Regions from separate parts of the Homo sapiens genome. Here all the other regions are linked to region 1. The links come from fine-mapping of genetic effects on gene expression. A gene starts in region 1. Each other region holds a variant in brackets. All regions are shown on one strand. Distances are between the middles of the regions.

Region 1 (4,113 bases):
ACAGAACACAGCCAGCCCCCAGACACGTCCTCTGTGCCCTGCTTCCTGGCTCTGGCACCCCTCCCTCCAAGGGTAACCACTATCCTGACTGCTACCCCCATATACACCTTCTACCACTTTATCCACATGGAAACAAATATGGCTTTTTATCCTCTGGCTTCTTTTCCTCAACATCATTTGTGAGAGTCATCCATGTTGTTGTGTGTAGTTGATTATTCACTGTCATTGCTGTCATTCCACTGTGTGAATATATCACAATTTATGTATCCATTTAACGGCTGATGAGCATTTCAGTAGTTTCCAGTTTGGGGCAATTATAAACACTGCTGCTATCAACAGAAACACAATGTTAGGTGTGTATCTAGGAGCAGAATTGCTGGGTAATCAAGGCCTTTCAAAAAGATTTTGAAAGTTGTACCACTTTGCATGTCCACCAACAGTGTCTGGCAGTTCCAGTTGCTCCATTTCCTTGTCAACACTTGATATGGTCAGATTTTCCCATTTCCGATGCTCTTGGAGGCTCTGCTCTGCACTTCACTTCTAAATTCCTTTAGCAACAGGTGAGATGGATCTTACGATTTCTATTTTACAGATGAGGACGCCAAGGTTCTGAGAAATGAAGTAATTCCTCCAAAGCAACTTAAACCCTGGCAAGGGTGCAGGGCTGCGACGTTAACAGGGTTGGCCTCAGCCCATCACATCTGTCTGTTAAAGCCGCCTCCCCAGACCTTGTCTTGATGGGGTTTCCCAGCAGTCCTGCCCTAGGGATTGTGGCCCTTCTACACGTGGGGAGAGACGGATCAGTGTCCCTGGCCAGGGCCAAGCCTGAGAGGGAGGCCCAGCCTCCAGGAAGCTCCGGGTCGGGTCTTCGTCCTGCCCCGCTCTCCAGGTTGGAGAGGGGACCCGCAGAGCGCGGGGCGTTGGGGGAGTTGGGGACGGGGGCGTGGTCCGGGACCAGGTAGGAGGTCTTCGGAGGGTGGCAGGGAGGGGAAAACAGGAGAGTTTTCTCCTGCAGCGGAGGAGGGGCTGCAGCACCTGGATGGGGCCCATGTCGCCGCGCCACGGGCAGGGGCGGAGGGGGCGGGAGGGTGCTTGCCAAGGGGCTGGGCTGCCGGGGGCCGGGGCCTCGTGGCTAGCCGGACCCCTCTGCGACAGAGTGGCGAGAGGAGCGGGGAGAGAAGGTGGGGACAGGCGGGGGCCACCTCCTGCGGCTGCAGAGAGGGATGGGGTGGATTGCGGGCCAGCGCTTTAGGGGAGAGAGGGCGGACGCTCGGTGCGGAGGGGCCGGGGCCGGGGCCGGGGCCGGGGGCGTAGCGGGAGGAGGGCGGGGGCGGGGCTGGATTATGGCTGGGGGCGGGGCCATGGCGAGACGGGGGCGGGAGCCACGGTGCGCGCGGGGGCGGGGCAGGGGCGCGGCGGGGGCGGGGCGGCCGTTCGGGGGCGGGGTGGGCGGCAGCGGAGGCCAATGAGCGCGCGCGGCGCAGACCCCGCCCCCCGAATCCCCGTCCCGCGGCGGCGGGTGCTGCATAGTCATGAGGCGCAGGGGCCGGCGCTGCGTCAGCGGAAGCGGCGCGGAGCGGCTGTTTCCGACCCGATAAAGCGGCGTTGTCTCCGCGCGCCGGCCGCAGCCTCGCAGCGCTCTCTCCGCGCCCGCGTCGCTGACTGACCGCCCGGCCGGCCGGCCGAGGGAGCAGCCCCCGCCCGGACCCGCAGCCGCCTCCCGACCCCGGTGCGCCCGGGGCTCCGCGCCCCCGTAGCCCCTGCCCGGCCCGGCCCGGCCGCCCCGCCGCCCCCGCGGCCCCGGCCGGAGGAGACAGGTGAGTGGCCTGCCGCCCGCAGCCGCCTGCCCCGCCGCCCCCTGCACCTCGCACCTGGGCGCCGGGCACCTGCAGCCTCCCCACCCCCACCTCCCGCACAGCCTCGGCCTCCAGGTCGGGTCCGCGCCGCAGCCCCAGCCCCGCACCTTCTCCGGGGGAGGGGACGTGCCCCCACCCGGCTTGCGCTGGCTCCTCAGGGCCCCCCAATTCCTTCCCGCCTCCTCTTTCCGGATTGCACCTGCCCTGGTCCCCAGCCCTGCAGCCTCCCTCATTCCCCCCACCCCGGCCCCCACCCCGGGGCGCGCGCCTTCATTTGGACCCGGCCCGCTTTCGCACCCATCAGTCCTCCCCGCCCCCAGTTCCTCGGTTTCTCTACCCAGAGAGGAGCCTGGCGCCTCTAACTCCTGGTCCTGACCCTGTCTTGTCCTTCTAACCCCTGCCTGCTATCTCTAACTTATGAGAATTCAACCAGCGATACACCACTCGCGAAGTGGCCCCCTCTCCCCTCTGTCTGGACCGGTCCTCCCAACCGAACACACTCCCTTCTTCCCCTTCTTCCCCTTCCCTTCTTCCCCTCCTTTCCCTCTGCCCAGTGCACACACGACCCTGGCAGCACTGCTAGCCAGTGTCCCCCGCCTCGGACCCCCAGCCTGCACCGCCAGACTGTGGCTCTGCCCCGGTCTCATCGGCACTGCGCTCCCTTGTGTCCCTTTGAAGATACCTTGATTTCCTGAGACCGACCTTGTCCCTGGAGGAAAGAGGCCAGGGCATCAGTTCATCCGGGCCCAGATTCCCTGCTCTGTAGAAGTCCCCGCACCTTCTGCGTCTCAGCACCCGCTGCCCCTTTCCCCTTTGCGCTTAACCCGTTCCTCCCCCAGGTATCCTGCTCTGGATTGGAGCACTTCCAGCAGCGGCTTTTCCAGCGGAGGCGGATCCACACGGGGCCCAGCCTCCTGGTTAGCTATTCAGAATGATTCTAGAAGGCGGGGGCTAGGGAGGGCTGGGAAGGGCCGCTTGACCTCCTAAGGAGCCTGAGGTGTTTGTGTCTCTCCAGTGCGGGTCACTGATGGAGTGTGGCTTCAGGTTCACAGACCTAGCCACTGACCCCCATCTGATACCTCAGCTGACTCCAGCAAAACAGGGCTTGTCGTTTTTATTACTGTTTTGGGGGCTGTCTTTTCCAGTCTATGACCCGGAGCGAGGAGGGTTTACCAGATGAGTGATTGAACTAATTGTTGTGGGGTCAGATGATTCTTGTGGGCTGGTAGATTCTGAATCGAAGCCCATTTCTGCTGGGGAAAAGCCACTGCATCTGCCCAGCATTACTGAGAGCGCCCTGCGCTTCCATTCCCCAGACGGTCTCATCCTTCCTGTGTCATTGGCAGACAGGTAGAATGTGGTAGGAATCTTATCCTTCTGTTATTTTGTGCTGGCTTTAGGAAAAAATAAGAAAACAAAAAGCTGGAGTATTGGTGTACAGGTTAGGGAGTGTAACACATGGGGATCAGAGCAGGTAACACACACTGTCCTTAAAAGAAATGTATAGTGTCCTCACTTTTCTGCTAGGTTTGAATTATTGTTAAAAGAACGAGCAGAGATTATTTAAATGCTTGGGAGAGGTTTTGCAGAAGCCACTTGATGAGAAGAGGCAGCCCTGCAGGTTCCGGGTGGAGGAGACTCAGGCGCAGTAAAGAACTCATGTGTTTCTAGAGAGAGGCTGGGGAACTAGGTCGTCTTACACATCAAGGATTTCACACCCGTTCAGGCTAATTGTTTTTGTGGCAGTGGCTGTAAAGGAAAGAAGCAAATCGTTTGAAATGTGTTTGAAATACACACTGGGTATTTAAAGGTGTGTTTTTTTGGCCCAGGTGTTCACAGGGCGGGGAGTGGGGAGGCTGCCCAGGGCCACCTCCCGGGCCTCGTGGGGGGAGTGGCCTGCTGCCCTGCCGAGATGCGTGCTGCAGCTTTGGCCCTTGTCGCATCGTGAAAGCAGATCAGAGATTGGACTGGGTGAGCTCCAAGGTGTGTGTCTTGCAGCTTGTAACACCCTCTAACTTTGCTTATTGGAGGGGGGTGGGGGAGGGGCGGAGCAAGCCTGTAAACCGGATTCTGCCTCCTTTCCGTGAGCTCTGAGATCCCGCCCCAGCCCGCCCCGCAGATCTGCAGGGAAGGAGAGGGCTGCGGCAGCGGCAGCTCCCCACTTTCCCGATGGAGGAAAGGAGCCGAGGAAGGTATTTCAGCCAATCTTGAGGTTGCTTGGTGGTGAATGGATTGTATCTGTGTTGTCAGGAGAGAG
Region 2 (4,113 bases), 61 kb after region 1:
GACAGTTCCCATTTCTCCACATCGTCGTCAATGTTTAGTGTTGTCAGTCCTTTTCAACTTCATTCATCGAAGTGGGTGTGAACCATATCTCATTGCAGCTTTAATTTGCATGTCTTTTTTTTTTTTTTTTTTTTAAGATGGGGTCTCACTCTGTCACCCAGGCTGGAGTGCCACAGCACTATCACAACTTACTGCAGCCATGACCTCCCTGGGCTCAGCTGATTCTCCCACCTCAGCCTCCCAGGTAGCTGGGACTACAGGTGTGCACCACCACGCCCATCTAATTTTTGTATTTTTTGTAGAGATGGGGTTTCACCGTATGTTGCCCAGGCTGGTTTCGAACTTCTGGGCTCAAGCCATCTGCCCACCTCAGCCTCGCCAAGTGCTGTAATTACAGATGTGAGCTACAGGCCTAGCCTGTTTTGTTTTTTTATATATTCTTACACTTTATTGAGACGAGGTTTTGCTATGTCACCCAGGCCAGTCTTGAACTCTTGGGCTTAAGTGATCCTCTTACCTTGGTCTCCCAAAGTGCTAGGATTACAGGCATGAGCCACTTTTATTTATTTATTATTATTTTTTTTTTTAAACAGGGACTCTGTTTCCCAGGCTGAAATGCAGTGGTGTGATCACAGCTCTCTGCAGCCTCAACCTTCCTGGGCTCAAGTGATCCTCCCGCCTCAGCCTCCTGAGTAGCTTGGACTGTAGGTACGCACCACCACACCTAGCTAATATTTTAAATTTTTTAGGGAGATGGAGTCTCACTATGTTGCCCTGGCTGGTCTAGAACTCCAGGGCTCAAGTGATCCTCCTGCCTGAGTCCCAGAGTGCTGGGGCTATAGGCGTGAGCCACTGTGCCAGGTTCCTTTCCATTTTCCTAATGGTATCTTTCAGAAAGCAAAAGTTTTAAATTTTGATGAAATTTGGTGTATCAAATATGTTCTTTTTTGTTCTTTTTCAATTAAGAACTCTTTGCCTGACCTGAAGTCTTTTTTAAGAGCTGGAGGTCTCACTGCATTGCCTGGGCTGGAGTGTAGTACTGTGATCGTGGCTCACTGCAGCTTCAACTCCTGGGCCTGAAGTCTTAATGATTTTCCCTTATGTTTCCTTCTAGATGCCTCAGTAGTTCTCTCACCTAGGTCTGTGATCCATTTTGAGTGAATTTTTGTATACCGTAAGAGTTGAGGGATTCCCCCTCCATCTGGCACGTGGAAATTGAGTTGTTCCAGCATCACTTGTAAAAAGCCTGTCCTTTCCCATTGAAATCCATGGCACCTCTGTTGGCATTTACTGGCTACCTATATTGTGAATCTGTTTCTAGGCACTATTCTGTTCCATTGATCTATATGTCTGTTCCTGATACAACGATTGATTGATTTCTGTAGTTTTATGGGGCATCTCGAAATTAGGAAATATGCCTACCTTTTGGAACTTGTTTTGGGCCAGGCGTAGTGACTCACACCTGTAATCCCAGCACTTTGGGAAGCCAAGGCGGGAAGATTGCTTGAACTCAGGCGTTCGAGACCATCCTAGGCAACACAGCAAGACCT[C/T]GTTTCTAAAAAAGAAAAAGAAAACTTGTTTTGGCTGTTGCAGTTCTTTCACATCTCCATATAAATTTTAGAGTTATCAATTTCTACAAAAAGCCTGCTGGATTTTTACTGGAATTGCATTGAATCTATAGAGAATTGACATCTTAATTTCGAGTCCTTCGATCCATGAACATAATATATCTTCTCAACACACTTAAGTCTTTAATTTCTCCTAGGAATGTTTCATAATTTTTAGTATGTAGGTCCGTCACATACTTAAAGTATTTCATTGTTATCATGTTATTGTAAATAGCACTGCTTTAATTTCCATTTCTGGTTGTTCATCGTTCTATAGAGTAGTATAAGTGATTTTTATATATTGACCTTATACCTTGCAATTTTGCCAAACTCACTTAGTAGTTCCAGTAACTTTTAATTGTAAGACCTGTATTGATGTTCCTTCTTTCCTGATATTGGTAATTTGATCAGCCTGGTTAAAGGTTTATCAATTTTGTTGGTCTTTTCAAAGACTATGCTTTCAGCTTCATTCGGTTTTTTCCTCTGTTGTTTATTTTCTATTTTGTTAATTTATGCTCTTATATTCATTTTGTTTTCTTCTGCTTACTTGGTTTTAATTTGCTCTTTTTCTAGTTTATTATTTTTCTATTATTAGATGGTGTCTCACTGTGTTGCCCAGGCTGGCTGGACTGAAACTCCTGGGCTCAAGCAATCCTCCTGCCTCAGCCTCCTGAGTAGCTGGGATTGCAGGTGTGCACCACCACAACTGGCTACTTCTTCTAGTTTCTTAAGGTGAAGCTTATAGCATTGGTTTTTTTATATTTTTCTTTCCTAATAAAATCATTTATTAGAAATGGTTTCATTTCTAATAAATTTGCTGTTACACAGAGGGGTCAGGGAGGAGTATAAAGAGGCTCTAAGAGACCCCTGAGATACCCTCTGTGTGACCCCGTGACCTTCACCCCTTGGCTTTCACGGCCTTGTGCAATGCCCTCCCCTTGAGTAATTCCTGTTAACCAATAGAATATGGCAGCATCGAGGGGATGTCGCCTGACGCAAACGTGTGACTCCACCTTGCTGGGAGACCCTCTCTGTTGCTGCCTTGGCCTGCACATCTTGATGAATCAAGCTGCCTTCTTGGAAAGACCCATATGGCAAATAACTGAGCAGGAGGCCTCAGCCAACACCCCCAGGGCCGAGGCTCTCAGTCCAGGAGCCTGTGAGAGGCCCCAAACCAGAGCCACCCCGCAGAGCTGTGCCTGAATTCCCGGCCGCAGGAGGTATGTGGCCGTCACTGTTGCTCGGTGCCGCTGGGTGGTGTGCAGTTTGTTACGCAGCAGCAGGAAACCAGTACACGTGCTCAGAATATTCTGTTTGTCAGACTCTTTGCACTGCTTCCCCCTGTATAACTTTGGGTACATTGGAATTTTTCCCGTTGTCTCAATCCTCATCTTGGTAGAAGGGGTACGAAGGTACTACAGAAGCAGCATGTTTGTATTGATAAATATCGCAGCAGAAACCTTAGATTGTAACTCGTTTTGAAATATCAAGCAATAGCAAGTCTGCCCTTTCTCTCTTCCCCAAAGAAAACTTTCCCTTTGAAAATCAGCAAACTGGAAGCTGTGAGAAGCAAATTAGCTCAGTCTCTGCCATCATCAGCATCAGTAGAGGAGTTGTTTGGAATCTAGGAGCAGCCAGCTAATGCCCGTGTGTGTGAGGTGGCCCTTGATGGCAGTTTCCTAAAGCAATTCAGCCTGCACCATCCTTAGCCCAGGCAGTGTGCTATCTTCTTCAGAAGTTAGTGGTGACACTGCCTGCGATGCTGCTGGCAGACAGTGCTGCTGCCCCTGGGAGGCCCCTCCCTTCCCCCTGCCCTTGACTCCTGGGCCTAAGGCTGGTCTGGGGTTGGGACACGCTGAGGGTCTGTGAGTCCCATCTAGCTCTAAGAGTCCAGCCTCCTCTGAGCGGCAGGTTGGGAGTTGTCTGCCATCAGGTGACTTTGGTGTGCTTATGATGCTGAGACCAGATTTTGGGGTCTCCTGGGAGTCCCTGATGCTCTGGGATTCTGCTGGCTGCCCCCCGGGTCAGCCCTGGGGGAGGCAAGCAGTAAAGGGGGCTCTGGGAACCCTGGACAGAAGACGTGATGGAGCGGAAGGCCCATTGTTCGTTGAGTGATGAATTAACACTTTCCTTTATGATGATGATTCAAGTCCTGTTTCTGGTTTCTCTTTCATTTCCATTATTTGCTCAAGTGACAGAGATTTCCTGTCCCTCCTCGAAACGGTGGTGGTGGAGGTAGCAGCAGCCAGCAACCCAATGTTGGCTCCTCTTGGAGAATCCAAAAATCGACCATGTTCCAAGTGTGTAGCCTTACTTATCTCAGCAGATACCAGCATCTCCTTTCTTCTGGAAACGTGTGCAGAGTTGACACATATGATGTGCTTAGAACAGAGCCTGTAATTGTTAGCTGTTATTACTGTCATTATCTTTTTCTCCACTTGGGTTCGTAGTCAGCAGCCTTGGTGGTAACTTGTCGAGGGCCTGCCTCACACTTACTGTGGAAAAG
Region 3 (4,113 bases), 22 kb before region 1:
TGTGCCCTGACGCCTCTGCCCAGACCTCGGCTGCAGGGCCCATGTTGCAGAGAATTACTCCCAATTCCATAGACGGTCCTGAGGCCAAGAACAGAAGCAGGTGCTGGCCCAGCACCCACCTCTTGTCTGCATCCTTTCCCAGACCCCCTTCCTTCCTCCACACACCCCGGTCATGCCCACCCCGGGGTCCTTGGCCGCACAGCCCTCAGTGTTAACCCAGGACCTAGGCCCTGAGGACTGAGCTCATGGTCTCTGCAGAGGTCCCAGCAGGCAGGCAGGCTGGACACTATTCCCGGTGACAGCTCAGAGGTCAAGCAGGTACCCCCGGCCACACGGGCACAGGAGTGAAGTCCTGCAGGCTCCCCCTCCCCTAAGCTTCCGGCCAGTGCCCCCACCCCAGCTTTGGCTGGGCCTCGAAGGCTTGGCGGAGCCCCTGCGAGATGCTGCTCCCGCGGAGGACAGGAGGAGGGCTGTCCCATTGCGGTGGGTTCACTCCCCTGCCACTTTATTTTCCCAGAAAGGCAAAAGACACCTTGGGATAGGACAGTGGGATGGAGTCTGATGTATTTGAAATTGGAAGCAAAAAACCCAGCTCCCAGGGGCTGGGAGAGAGGCCGAGGGCAGTGGGAAGGTGGGGCAGGGACACACCAGGACGCAGGAGTCTGCTGGATCATAGCCAAGTGCGTGGGGCCCACTCAACCAAGGAAGAGCAGGGGGACCCAAATTAGGAACTCCCTTGGGAGGGGAGCAAGCACTGGAGAAAGCCCAGCCTGCCCTGCTGCCCTCCGCATCCCTGCAGGCTCCTGCCCGGCTGCCCTCCACGTCCCCGCAGCCTCCTGCCTGGCTGCCCTCCGTGTCCCCGCAGGCTCCTGCCCGGCTGCCCTCCGTGTCCCCGCAGGCTTCTGCACCTCTAGCTCACACCACAGGCTGCCCAGGTGGGGACCTGAACTCGGCTCTTCTCACCCACAACCTCCTGCACCAGGGCCAGCAAATGCTGCCCCTCCTGCTGTTCCCCAGCTTAATTCCCAGCTGAAAACAGAGCAAAGGCATTGGCAAGACCAAAGCCACTTGTTTCCCAAGGACCTGGATTCTGAAGCAGGTGCCCAGGTGTACGGCCACACTGGACACCCTCTTGATCCTCCCTGGAGCTGAGCTAAGGCCAAGGGCTGGCCCCAGCCCTGGCTGCCTAGTAACTATGCCCAGAGGCCCAGCACAGAAGGCGTAGCCTGCAGAGGCGCTGGGCAGAAGGACGGAGCCCTGAAAGTGTGCAGAGGACACACTGCCTGCGGGCAAGCGAGGCTGTGGGACTAAGTGAGCAGTGCAAGGTGCACCGCCTGCCGGCAGCCCTGGGCAGGGACCCCCATCCATCTGCTATGTGCTCCCCCAAGGCCAACCAGGTGTCTCTGCTGGAGACAGTCACAGTTTGTGATCTGTTTAACTGATTAGTGTCTGCTACAGACTGCCAGCTCCAGGAGGGCAGGGTTCTGTCCTGTCCCTTCCAGCTGGACCCCCACGTCCTAGCATAGTGCCTGACGTATCACATGAGCTCGGCCCATATTTGTGAGAAGAAGAGGAAGAGGGAAGGAGAGGCAGGCACCCCAGGGCCGACACGGAGGGCAGGTTGGAGGGTCTGGGAAACTTATTCAGAAGATGGGCCTGGAGCATGAGTGAGTTAGCCTCCACAGCAGCTCAGGGTTTGAGTCCTGAGAGCAGAGTTCAGCGCAGGTGAGAAAAGGCCACATCCCAGGAATGAGGAGCTGGGCCTGACACTTTCCTACGTGGCCACGGACGGCTCTCCTTTAGGGACCACGTGCATTCGCTGCCATCTCTCTCTGGCCCTAGAAGGGACGAACACCCCGATACCTCCATTTTCACAGAGGAGCAGCGGGAGGCCCAGAGGTGAAGGTCCTCACCAGGCGTGCAGCTAGGGTCTGTTCCTAAACCTGTCCTGTGCTGCCCCAGGTGCGGACAGGGGCTGAGGCTGAAGCAGAAGCCGGCCTGCTTGCCTGCTCTGTGTTCCCTGAGAACCCTGGCTGTCTAGTGGGGGCAACCCTGGCATGCCCAGAGACCCCACGCTGTGGTGGGGGAGCCCCTCACAGGCCCAGGCGCAGGTGCATGTCCTCCCTGCCCCAGAGGCCCTCGCCTCCTGCCGCTGCTGGGGGCCGCCCTGGCTGAGCGCCCACCAAAGTGTGAAGTGCTTCCCGAGGGAGTCCATGGGGAAGCCCCAGCCC[C/T]GCCTGCTGTGGCTGCATCAAGGAGGCGGCCTTCCTTCCGGGCCCATCGCCTGGGCCTCTGGGGTCAGGCCTCGGGTCACCCTCCGGCTGGGACAGGAAGCCTGACATGAGTCTGGAGTTGGGGGTAGGGCAGGGCCGGGAGCCAGCCCAGCGGGATGGGGATGCCGGCTGTCTGGGCAGACACCGGCGGGGTCAGGGAGGAGGCTGGGGTAGGGTAGCTGCCCTGTGACCTGCCCCCCTGGGATGCCGCAGAGCCCAGGCCCGCTGCTTCCCTCCGGTGCAAGCTGGGATGGGCTGGCAGCTGAATGGAGGGCCAGGAACCCCACCACAGCTCCAGGCCAGGCACCATCATTCCTGCCCTGGAAAAGGGCCTCCTTCCAGCCTCTCTGACTCTACTCCGGCCACCACAGCCCGATGTCCACGTATGTGTCATCCAAGACTGCGGCCTGAGTCTCATCCAAGATGTCATACAAGACTGCAGCCTGTCTTCTGAGTACATGAGGTGCAGCCAGTCCGAATTGAGTTGTACGGTAAGCGTGGAATATGTCCCCACCTAGTATGAGACAGACTGTGAAATATCTCATTCATAATTTGTTATATGAATGACACGTTTAAATAATATATTGGATATATTAGGTTCCATAAAATATATTACTAAAATAATTTGCATCAAATTCTTTTTCCGTTTTCCTAACGTGGCTGATAGAAAATTAGAAATTATTCACGAGGCTGGCATGAGATTTCTAGTGGAGAGTGCTGTCTCTGTGCCGACAGAGGGAGTGTCTCCAATCTAATTCACACCAGTCCCTTCCTTGCTTAAATAAAGCCCATCAGGTCAGGGGAAAGTCTCCCATGTCCGGTGTGGACTTCTCCCAGGACTCAGTCTCACCTCTGCCCACCAACCCCACTTTCCAGCTGCCCCGTGGTGCCACATCTTCCAGCTGCCCCCGTGGTGCCACATCTTCCAGCTGCCCCTGTGGTGCCACTACTGGGCCTCTGCAAGCTGCTCCTTCTCTAGGAGTGCCCTTCCCTAACCCTGTTTCCTCCTTTGTCTAGGGATGTCTTCTGGGCTTTCACAGATGCCTGGAGTGTCACCCTTTCTTCAGTGCTCCCAAGCCCACCTCCCCTGTCCACCCCCAGCAGCCCCTGCCTCAGCCCCGCTGGCTTGGGCTCCAAGAGGCGGGGCACCGTGCCGGGGTCAGGGGATTGAGTAACTTGCCTCGGAGCATCAGTTTGCTCATCTGTGAAACAGGTGCCCCATTCACGGGACCCACATCCCAGGCAGTCACTCAGCTCAAGTGAGGTCATCTAGACAGCCCCCTCAGGGCTGCCGCACAGAAGGGAATCTTTGGCTGGAGGATTAAATGTCCAGGTCGCCAAGCTGGCCACCCTCCTGAACAGAGCTGGTGAATCTTGAAAGAAAAAGAAAAATTGTTTCCGGAGCAGCAGCCCCACACTGGGCCCAAAGGTGATCGATAAGCAGGTCTGGCCCGGCGCCTCTTAGTGCTGAGAGGGCTCCTTCACTTAGGGCAGGGCTGGCTTTCAGACCAAAGCTGGCCAGCCACCTGTTTCTGTAGGACTGCAAGCTAAAATGGTTTTTACATTTTTAAATGGTTGAAAAGAAAACTAAAGAAGGGGCCAGGTGCAGTGGCTCACACCTGTAATCCCAGTAGTTTGGGAGACTGAGGCAGGCAGATCACCTGAAGTCAGGAGTTCAAGACCAGCCTGGCCAACATGGTGAAACCCCGTCTCTACTAAAAATACAAAAATTAGCTGGGCGTGGTGATGTGAGCCTGTAATCCCAGCTACCAAGGAGGCTGAGGTGGGAGGATTGCTTGAACCTGAGAAGTGGAGGCTGCAGTGAGCCAAGATGGTGCCACTG
Region 4 (4,113 bases), 94 kb after region 1:
TCCTTCCTCTCCGGTTCTGAGATGGCCCCTTCCAAAGCCCACAGAGCCACCACCTGCCCCTGATCGGTCCCTGGCCACAAAGGGTCTTCTCCTTCAGCCGCCCCCACCCCCCTAGCACCTCCAGAGGCTTCTGGAGGCAAAAGCACTGTCCCTGCCCCTTTGGTCCCCTCAGGCCCAGTCACATTTCCCTGAGGGGGAAGCTCCAGCCCCGTGTTTTCCACTTGGATGGGAGGAAAGCCACCCAGGTATGCCTAGACTTCCTGGCGGCCACGTTTAGAAAGTGAAAAGGCCAGTGAAGGCCATTTTCATAGCATATTTATTCAACCTGGTGTATCTAAAACATTATTTCAGCATGTACTCTATATGAAAAAAGTCATCGAGATACCTTACACTCTTGCTCATCGTTGAAATTGTGTGTATGTTACATCACAGCACATCACACATGAGACGAGCTTTATCTCAAATGCTCAGTAGCCGCAGCACAGGCAGACTCTTGCCTCTTTCTGGACTTTATGCAGCTGAAACATCTGGCTTCATCCTCTAGGATTCACTCACGTGCTTGCTGGCGGCAGCACGGCCAGCCTTTTCATGTCACAGTGTATGGCCAGATGCACCCTGCTTTGTGAGCCTTTGGGTGCTTCCAGGTTGGGGCCGTCACAGGTAGCACTGCATGAACGTCCCTTGCCACAAACACCTCCTGTTGTGCCCGTGCTGTTGGCTGACAGTCTCCTTGGAGTAGTGTGGTGTGTGTGGTTTGAGGTGGGGGTTCAAGACTTTTATTTTTTTCCCTACATATGGGTGTCTGCCTAGGTCATGACCCAGCACTGCTCCCCGCCCCTCTGTGCAGTGCCACCTTTGCCATAAATTGGGCTTCCGTGTAAGCATGTGTTTCCGCTCTCTTCTCTTCCGCTAGTCTCTCTATTCTTGCACAAATGTCAACTGTCTCTCACTAGTTTTGTAATAAGTCCTGAAAACTGGTAGTAGAAATCCCTCAACTTTGTTCTTCTTCAAGATTGTCTTGGCTATTCTCAACCATTTATTTGTCATCTAAATGTTAGATTCAGCTTCTGGGCTTTTAAAATTAAAAACAAATTATATGGGTCAATTTGGGGAGAGTGAATGACTTTGTAGTATGGAACTTCCTATCCCTAAGTGTGACATACCCTTCTATTATTAATCCTCAGTGCATCAGTGTGACATGCCCTTCTATTATTAATCCTCAGCACATCTGGAGATTCTTTGGGCCATCTACTTACACAGCCACATCATCTGTGTCTAATGAGCTCCGTTTTCTCCTTCCTGATCCTTCGTACCTGTTACTTATTTTCCTTGCCTTCTTGGAATGGCTGGAACCTCCAATACTAAATATGTAGAAGTGGTGTTTGCTCTTTCAAACTCAACAGGGGAGTATTTAATATCTTACTAGGAAGTATGATGCTTTTTTTTTTTTTTTTTGGAGACAGAGTCTCGATCTGTCGCCCAGGCTGGAGTGCAGTGGTGCAATCTCGGCTCACTACAACCTCTGCCTCCTGGCTACTCAGCCTCCCGAGTAGCTGGAACTACAGGCGCCTGCCACCACACCCAGCTAATTTTTGTATTTTTAGTAGAGACGACAGTTTCACCATGTTGGCCAGGCTGGTCTCAAACTCCTGACCTCAGGTGATCCACCCGTCTCGGCCTCCCAAGGTGCTGGGATTACAGGTGGAAGCCACTGTGCCCAGCCCAGAGTATGATGCTTTAATTTGTGTTTTTCTGAGAATGTGTCCATTTCATCTGCACTTTCAAGATTATTAGCATTAAATTGTTCTCTTATGATCTAATGTGATGGAACCTATAGTGATAACACCTTTTTCCTCCCGTGTTAGTTATCTGAGACTTTATTGATTTTATTTGTGTTTCAAAGAACTTTCGGCGTCTTAGTCCTCCCTGCCACGTGTCCGCGTGCTTGCGCGTTCACTGCCGCCCTTTGCTGTCTCCTGCCTTCCGTTATGTCTTGGTTTAATTTGCTGTTGCTCATTTCTTAGTCTGATTTCCAGGCTAATATTTGCATTTAAGGTCAGTTTCCCTCCACACACACCTTTAGCTGCACCATGCAGGTTTTAATGTTGGGTTTTCTTTTAAAAGATTTTTATAATTTTCATTACGATTTCTATTTTGAACCATGAATTATTTAGAAGGACACTGATGAATTTCTGACATTTGGGCTTTTTCCAGTTGTCCTGTTGTTACTGATTTCCAGTGTGACTCCTTAATGGCCAGAGAACATACCCCATGTGGTTGCAGCCTTACAGTTAGCTGAGGCTTCCTTTGTGGCCCAGCACATCACGCGTGTTGGTAAATGTTCCGTGTACGCTTGGAAAGAATGTGGGTCCTGCACCTAGTGCCCCGTCTCTGTCTGTGAGGTCAACCTTGACATTGCTTAGCTCTTCTCTTCCTGCTTCTATTTTCTGAAAGGTAGATAACCATCTCTCACTGTGATTATGGCACACACATTTAGAGCTGCTTTGTTTTTTAGCTTCTTAGTGGACTGACCTTTTTTTCACTATCTCTAGGAAAAAGCCTTTGCAGAGATGCT[A/GTCTA]ATGGTAGTAATATATGTACAGCAGTTTTCTTTTGTATCTTTGTGCAAGAAACACAAGTGAAACTGCTCACTCTTTCCGTGGGTCCAGCCTTTGTTGCACGTGGCCACCTGCAGTTATACTTTGGGAGGCATCAACCTGGGCTCACAGCACCCCTCCCCACTCAGCCCCTGCTGGAGACCACCAGGGTGAGGGGGAGCCCGCCTGGTGGAGCCTGGCCCTGCCACCTCTCCTTGAGACTGGAGGCCAGATTCCTGGGAAGCCCACGTCCCGACTGGATTGACAGAGTTGCTTCCACGCCTGCCCTCTCCTTGAGCTAGAACTTCCCACCTCTTCCGCCTGTACAGTGCTGGACAGGAGCTGGGGGATTGAGGGTGCTCAGGCAGGAGTGGTTGCCAAGAGACTCGGTGGAAGACGGGTCATGTTTCCAGGCTTGTGGGTTAATACTCACAGTTGTGAAGCACGGGTAGCAGCCACCTTCTCCAGCCGCTCACCGCCTCGTGTTTCCTCTCTTGCAGTACATCCACCACAGCCCCGGGAACTCCAAGCGAGGGTTTGGCATAGATTGTGCCATCCTGTCCTGCCAAGTGTACATCTCGCAGATCCTGGTGGCCTCTGCCCTTGGGGGCGTGGTCGACGCCGTGGGGACTGTCCGCGTCATCCCCATGGTGGCCTCTGTGGGCTCTTTCCTGGGCTTCCTGACGGCCACATTCCTGGTGATCTATCCCAACGTGTCAGAGGAGGCCAAGGAGGAGCAGAAAGGCCTGTCTTCCCCGTTGGCCGGCGAAGGCAGGGCCGGTGGGAACAGCGAAAAGCCCACCGTGCTGAAGCTCACGCGGAAGGAGGGCCTGCAGGGACCGGTGGAGACAGAGTCCGTGGTCTGAGCCGCACTCCCGTTTACACACATTCCAGTGGGCGGGTGGGCGGGCGGGCGGGCGGCGGGGCCAGGCCATGGGCGGGAGCAGAGACACCGCGGAACCCTGCAGATGCTGTGGCCGACCCGGCAGTGCGGGCCAGAGCCCCTCCGCCCCCATAGCCACAATTCAGTAGTCGTAGGGTAGGTTTGAGCTACTAAGCAAATACCACACTAACCACTTTTTCGATAATTAAAAGAATCATTTGAAATATTTTTTTTAATTGAAAAAGATATTTTAATTTCAGCTCTTTTATTCTGCAGGTGTATTATTCTGCATGTTTTTAAATGATATAAAACATTTATATAGACAATAAGCAACTTAGAAAAAATAAGATTTTGCATTTCTAAAATTATAATTGAAAACAAAATCTGACATTCTCTGCTAAGTCTTATCTGAATGCTTCAGATAATGGTAGTGTAGTCAGTGACTAAAATATTTTTATCAAATTTCCTCTCTGTAGACGCCTGCAGGTATTGACGTCTGTCAGATCTCGTCACATTGGCTGGTGCCGCAGCTGTTGGAGAGTATTTTTCTTTATGATTATTTTAGAAAAAAAATTTTCTTTTCCACAATGTGGTTCTCTTAGAAGAATGACGTATCTTCTTTTCCTCAGCGAGTTGGAC
Region 5 (4,113 bases), 99 kb after region 1:
GCAGTTGGGTACCTGCTCACGCACGGTGTGTCTGCCAGGCCACGGTGTCCCAGGATCGCAGAGGGCTGACTTTCAAGACTTCAAGAACATTTTCTGGATGTGTGGAAACTTGAGAATGGCCTTGTGAATCTCGTGCTTGGACAGGGCAAGTCCGACTACTGAAAGTGCTGCCAGCTTTGCTGCGAGCCCTCCGGCCAGCGGGAGCCCCGTGGGCTGGGCACTGTGGCCCTTCTTCTCTGGGGGACGGCACCCCTGGCTTCCTCACCTCGGCCGGGCGTCCGTGGCAGCTCACTCTATGCAACTTGATCCTCTAGCGGCTTTAAGACTGTAGATCCCCTCTCTGAGACCTGGCTGTACTTGTCAGGATCTCGAGGCGCAGCTCCCGTCTTAGCTGGTTTCTCCGGCTTCTCGTCCTGACGACTATAAAACAGTTGGAGGCAAGAAAGCAGCGGATGTGGGGTGGCAGTGGCCTGACCCGAATCAAGATCCGACCCAAACCACACCAAATGTGGGTTCATCTGGGGGCCACCCCTTGCCTGAGGCTTCCCACCCTCATCTGAAGGCCCAGGGGCCGGATCCAGGGCTCACCAAAGCCGATTCCTCGCCAGCTGGGAGTGCAGAAGTCTCAGGGCCTGGCTGCGACTTGATTTTTAGGAGGAAGAGGGGCTTCGCAACCCCCCTCTGAATAGTGTGTTAACCCTTGAGATCCCAGCCTCGACTAATCTGAAGTAAGGACAACAAAGGCCATTCAGTGCCCTCCACATGGCCTTGCCACAGTCACTGTCAGGGTATGAACGTGCCGGAAGCCAGTGCCAGCCAGGGACAGGCGTGACTGTTGTGTGCTCCTCGGTGACAGGAGTCGGTGGCTGCACACTTTGTAGACTCGTCAAGCTGTCAGCACTTCAGGTGTTTGCAAGCAAAGCCCTTCTTAGTGTGCAGGTCAGTGTGCAGAGCCCAAATGAGGGGACCGCAGGGGCTGGGGTCCAGGGTCAGTAGAGTCGGTTTCTGGAGCTGCCTTCCTGGGAGGCAGGTGTGGGTGACCGGGGCTCTGGCGGTGCGTGTGGGCCCGGCCTGGCCACAGCGGGGACCAGGTCACGACATCTTTGGCCTCAACCCCTCCCCTGCACTGAGATTATTTCCAGATTGCACTCACTTGAAACCGTCCGTGTCGTCACCTTGTGTCTTAAGGGAAGCCGAGAAGAAGGGCAGACGGGCAGGCTGTCTTGTCTGCAAAGCGCCATTGCGCCCGCAGCTTGTGTGGGTCAGGCTGCAGCTCGGGTGTCTGTGGCTTCTAACCTTGTACCTCAGACGGATGCAGTAACAAGGCGGGGCTGGGGACGCCGGTCAGTGTCAAAGGGGAGGTGCTCTGGCTGATAGCCTTGCCCGAGAGGGACGAGGAGGCCGTGCGGGTGCCCCCTGGGGAAGCTGGCCAGCCATCCAGTGCTGAGGACGCAGCTGGAGTTGGGCTCGTGGCACCCTTGGGGTGTGGGCTGTGCAGGCTGGTGGCCTGGGTGCCTCTGCACACTGAGTGGAGTGTCAGGCAGGGTGTGTCGGTTGGTCGAGTCTTGTGTAATGTGCGCAGACCAGTTACCAAACTAGGATAATGTTGGTCTCATTTGTGGTGGTTTTGTTCCCTATACAAGTCAGCTAAGTAAAGACTCTTTTAACGAGCTTCCCCTTAACACATGGCAGAAGTTTCCAGGTGCAGGAATGCGAGCTGGCGGGAAGGGGCAGAGGCCGTGAGCTCTCAGCTGGGCCGGCCTGCCTGTGTCCCCTTTCCTGGGTCTGTCGGCAGACTGGCATCATGACGTTCCCTGGTGGCTGAAGAGCTAGCTTTGGAGTGTTGTTTTTCTCACTCTCAGGCAGGGGCCTTAGCTGGAATCCTCCAACCTGCCACTGAACACGTCAGTGCTGTGTGCTGCCTCTTGGACACCTGCCCTTGAAAGCCTCAGGCCCCTGGGAGAAGCACTCTGTCCAGTCCTGTCCCCGGGGGGGAGGCAGGGCCACTGAGCCCTCCTCAGATGGTTAGTGGCTTCCAACAGCCATCAGGAGTGTTTCTTGAATGCCCCAGGTGTGGAGGACTTGGTCTGTGACCACCTAGAACCCCAGAGCTGAACAGGAAGCCGTCCCTGCAGCAACAAGAGGGCTGGAAGGGGGAGCTGCAGGCCACCCTCGGCTCTCCCACTGCTGGGGCGGTGATGTTCGGGTGACATGTTTGAAAAATACTCTTAAAGATACCAACTGTTCCCTTATATGGCTAATGGTTTGTGCAGCCACCAGCGATGGCGGCCCCTATTAGAGACCAGGTTTGTTAAAACACCAAATATTGCTGTCCACACTAGACATTAACCGGCTTCAGAAAAGATGGACACCTTTTCCCACGCTGTTTCGCTTCTTAACTTTGGTCCAGCTTTAGCCACCACACAGCGTGTGAGGGACTGCTGCTGCGGAGTCAGCCTCGTTTGTCCCTCCGCCTCCCACCAGCA[C/T]GCGCCGCTTCTGAGAGACACCAGCTCCCTGCCTCCAAGCCTGGTGCCACAGGCCTGTCGTGAGGGACCCCTGCTTCCGAGAGCTCCTGGGGGGGTTCTGCCCTTCACCACCTGGGAGAGGTGTCAGTTCAGTTCCGAGTTGAACAAGGCCCGTGCACACAGCATGTTGGGGGCCCAGCCCAAAGTTCTTGTCACCTCCTCATGCAAAGCCAGCCATCACCCTCCGGCCAGAGCTCAAGGTGGCCCCTTGGCCAGCCCCTCCTTGGGTCCTCCAGGAGGACTGAGCACCCCTCCTAGCGGCATCCCTTGCCCTCCACAGTGCTGCCAGGGGCACGTCGCTCTGTGCCGTGGACTGAGACCATCCCCTGGTGACAGAATGACCCGTTTGTTGGAAATGCCTCGTTGCCAGAGAAACTCCCCAGGCATCTCGGAACGAAACTATTTAGTTCCATTGTGAACTGGCCACGGGACAGCTTTTTATCAACTTATTAAGTTGGAGCACTGTAATCGCGCTTGCTGAGTTAGCAGTGGTGGTAAGCGTGTGTTAAACACATAATGTTACGTTTTAGGAGAGAGAGGTCGTAAGGAAGTGTCGTGTCGCTCATGACTCTCTTCTATTAGTTGGGTAACAGTGGCCTCATGTTTGTGTCTGTGTGTACACAGAGCCCTTAGGTTCTGCTCTGTTTCTTTGCCAGGTGAATGTTTGTGGCATGCGCTGCTGTCCGCGCCCCTCTGTCCTGCGCAGGGTTCAGCTGTGCGGCGCCCTGATTTCCTCCATGCACACAGAACCTCCTTGTGTCTGTTTCTCTGTTCCTCTGTGGCTGACTCAATAAACTTTTCCCTCTGACATGATGATGTGGGTGTGTCTGTCACTTCCCTGTGGCCTCCTGCCCTCTGCCTTCCTGGAGCCTGGTGGGTCTAGTGGGCTGTCTGAGGCCTGCGGAGGGGAGCTGGGCCCAAGTACCAGAGCATTTGCTTCCCAGAGGGCCGCCAGCTGGCAAATCCGGGGCCTGTCCCTGGAACCCACACACAGGCCCACTCAGGTGGGGTTGAGGCCTGGGCCTTCTGCAGGCCTGTTCTGGTGGAGCCGGGGTGGGGCCCGCGGTCTACCTCTGCTGAAGGGTCCCTGACTGTCCCTGGAGCCAGTGTCTTAAGGAGGCAGCCTGCTTGCTGTTGCTGCCAGCAGGAGGGGCCACGCTGGGCTGAGGACGGGGTGGCCCGGTGTGTGCACCTGGCTTTGGCGCCCCAGGGGACATATGGGGTCCTGGGGCGGCTGGAAGAGCGCTCCATTGACCTTCCTACAGGCAGAGTGAGTCATCTCTGTCCTCTGGCACCCCACTGAGGGCTGTGACTGGCAGTTGGCAGTGGAGGAAATGAAAGGGAGGGGACTTGCCCCGGGTTACCCAGCTGCTGGGGTTTGAATCCGGAAGCAAGTTTTCTTCAGTGGCTCTTCTGATTTGTGGGGCGTGGAAGGGGTCCCAGCAGGGCCGGGGTGTGGAGTAGAAGGGATCTGCTCAGACGAGGGAGAAAGGGACGAGGGACTTTGATAGTTGGGGGGTGTCACCACGGGGCTCCTGGATGGGACCTGCGCAGTTGGGGGCCCACGGAAGCCAGGAACCTCCGGACC

Which allele goes with the higher level. Positions count from the first base shown, and alleles are read on the strand shown. Sizes are in standard deviations (SD) of each study's normalised expression. Not every link is listed here.
For the expression in lymphoblastoid cells after a statin of the gene that starts at base 1,625 in region 1, allele A in region 4 goes with a higher level than allele GTCTA (moderate effect, 0.64 SD a copy in CAP).
As copies of C replace T in region 5, the expression in minor salivary gland of the gene that starts at base 1,625 in region 1 goes up (small effect, 0.28 SD a copy in GTEx).

Evidence for each region. PIP is the estimated chance that this variant, and not a neighbour inherited with it, causes the effect. A credible set is the group of variants that fine-mapping cannot tell apart.
Region 2: its variant is the best candidate, but not a certain one, in a credible set for the expression of SLC45A4 in tibial artery (GTEx, PIP 0.77).
Region 3: its variant is the best candidate, but not a certain one, in a credible set for the expression of SLC45A4 in nasal epithelium (TOPMed, PIP 0.63).
Region 4: its variant is the best candidate, but not a certain one, in a credible set for the expression of SLC45A4 in lymphoblastoid cells after a statin (CAP, PIP 0.72).
Region 5: its variant is the best candidate, but not a certain one, in a credible set for the expression of SLC45A4 in minor salivary gland (GTEx, PIP 0.51).

The regions. Positions count from the first base shown.
Region 1 is chr8:141,305,800-141,309,912 of GRCh38, reverse strand. It overlaps SLC45A4 (solute carrier family 45 member 4), which reads left to right and starts at 1,625. Exons shown (of 9, transcript NM_001286646.2): 1 at 1,625-1,817. RefSeq lists silencers at 1,390-1,629, 1,650-1,749.
Region 2 is chr8:141,245,039-141,249,151 of GRCh38, reverse strand. The region is part of intron 2 of SLC45A4 (solute carrier family 45 member 4); the gene reads left to right. Among named protein-coding and RNA genes, the nearest start is that of SLC45A4-AS1, 7.5 kb to the left of the region's middle. RefSeq lists enhancers at 2,155-2,835, 3,702-3,871. The variant C/T (reference allele first, on the strand shown) is at 1,551.
Region 3 is chr8:141,327,783-141,331,895 of GRCh38, reverse strand. No RefSeq gene overlaps it. Among named protein-coding and RNA genes, the nearest start is that of LINC01300, 11 kb to the left of the region's middle. RefSeq lists enhancers at 1,718-2,252, 2,253-2,789. The variant C/T (reference allele first, on the strand shown) is at 2,232.
Region 4 is chr8:141,211,535-141,215,647 of GRCh38, reverse strand. It overlaps SLC45A4 (solute carrier family 45 member 4), which reads left to right. Exons shown (of 9, transcript NM_001286646.2): 8 at 3,092-3,451; 9 at 3,951-4,113. The coding sequence ends at 4,076. Among named protein-coding and RNA genes, the nearest start is that of SLC45A4-AS1, 41 kb to the left of the region's middle. The variant A/GTCTA (reference allele first, on the strand shown) is at 2,576.
Region 5 is chr8:141,206,394-141,210,506 of GRCh38, reverse strand. SLC45A4 (solute carrier family 45 member 4) reads left to right here. Exons shown (of 9, transcript NM_001286646.2): 9 at 1-3,333. Among named protein-coding and RNA genes, the nearest start is that of SLC45A4-AS1, 46 kb to the left of the region's middle. RefSeq lists enhancers at 1,176-1,683, 1,684-2,191. The variant C/T (reference allele first, on the strand shown) is at 2,487.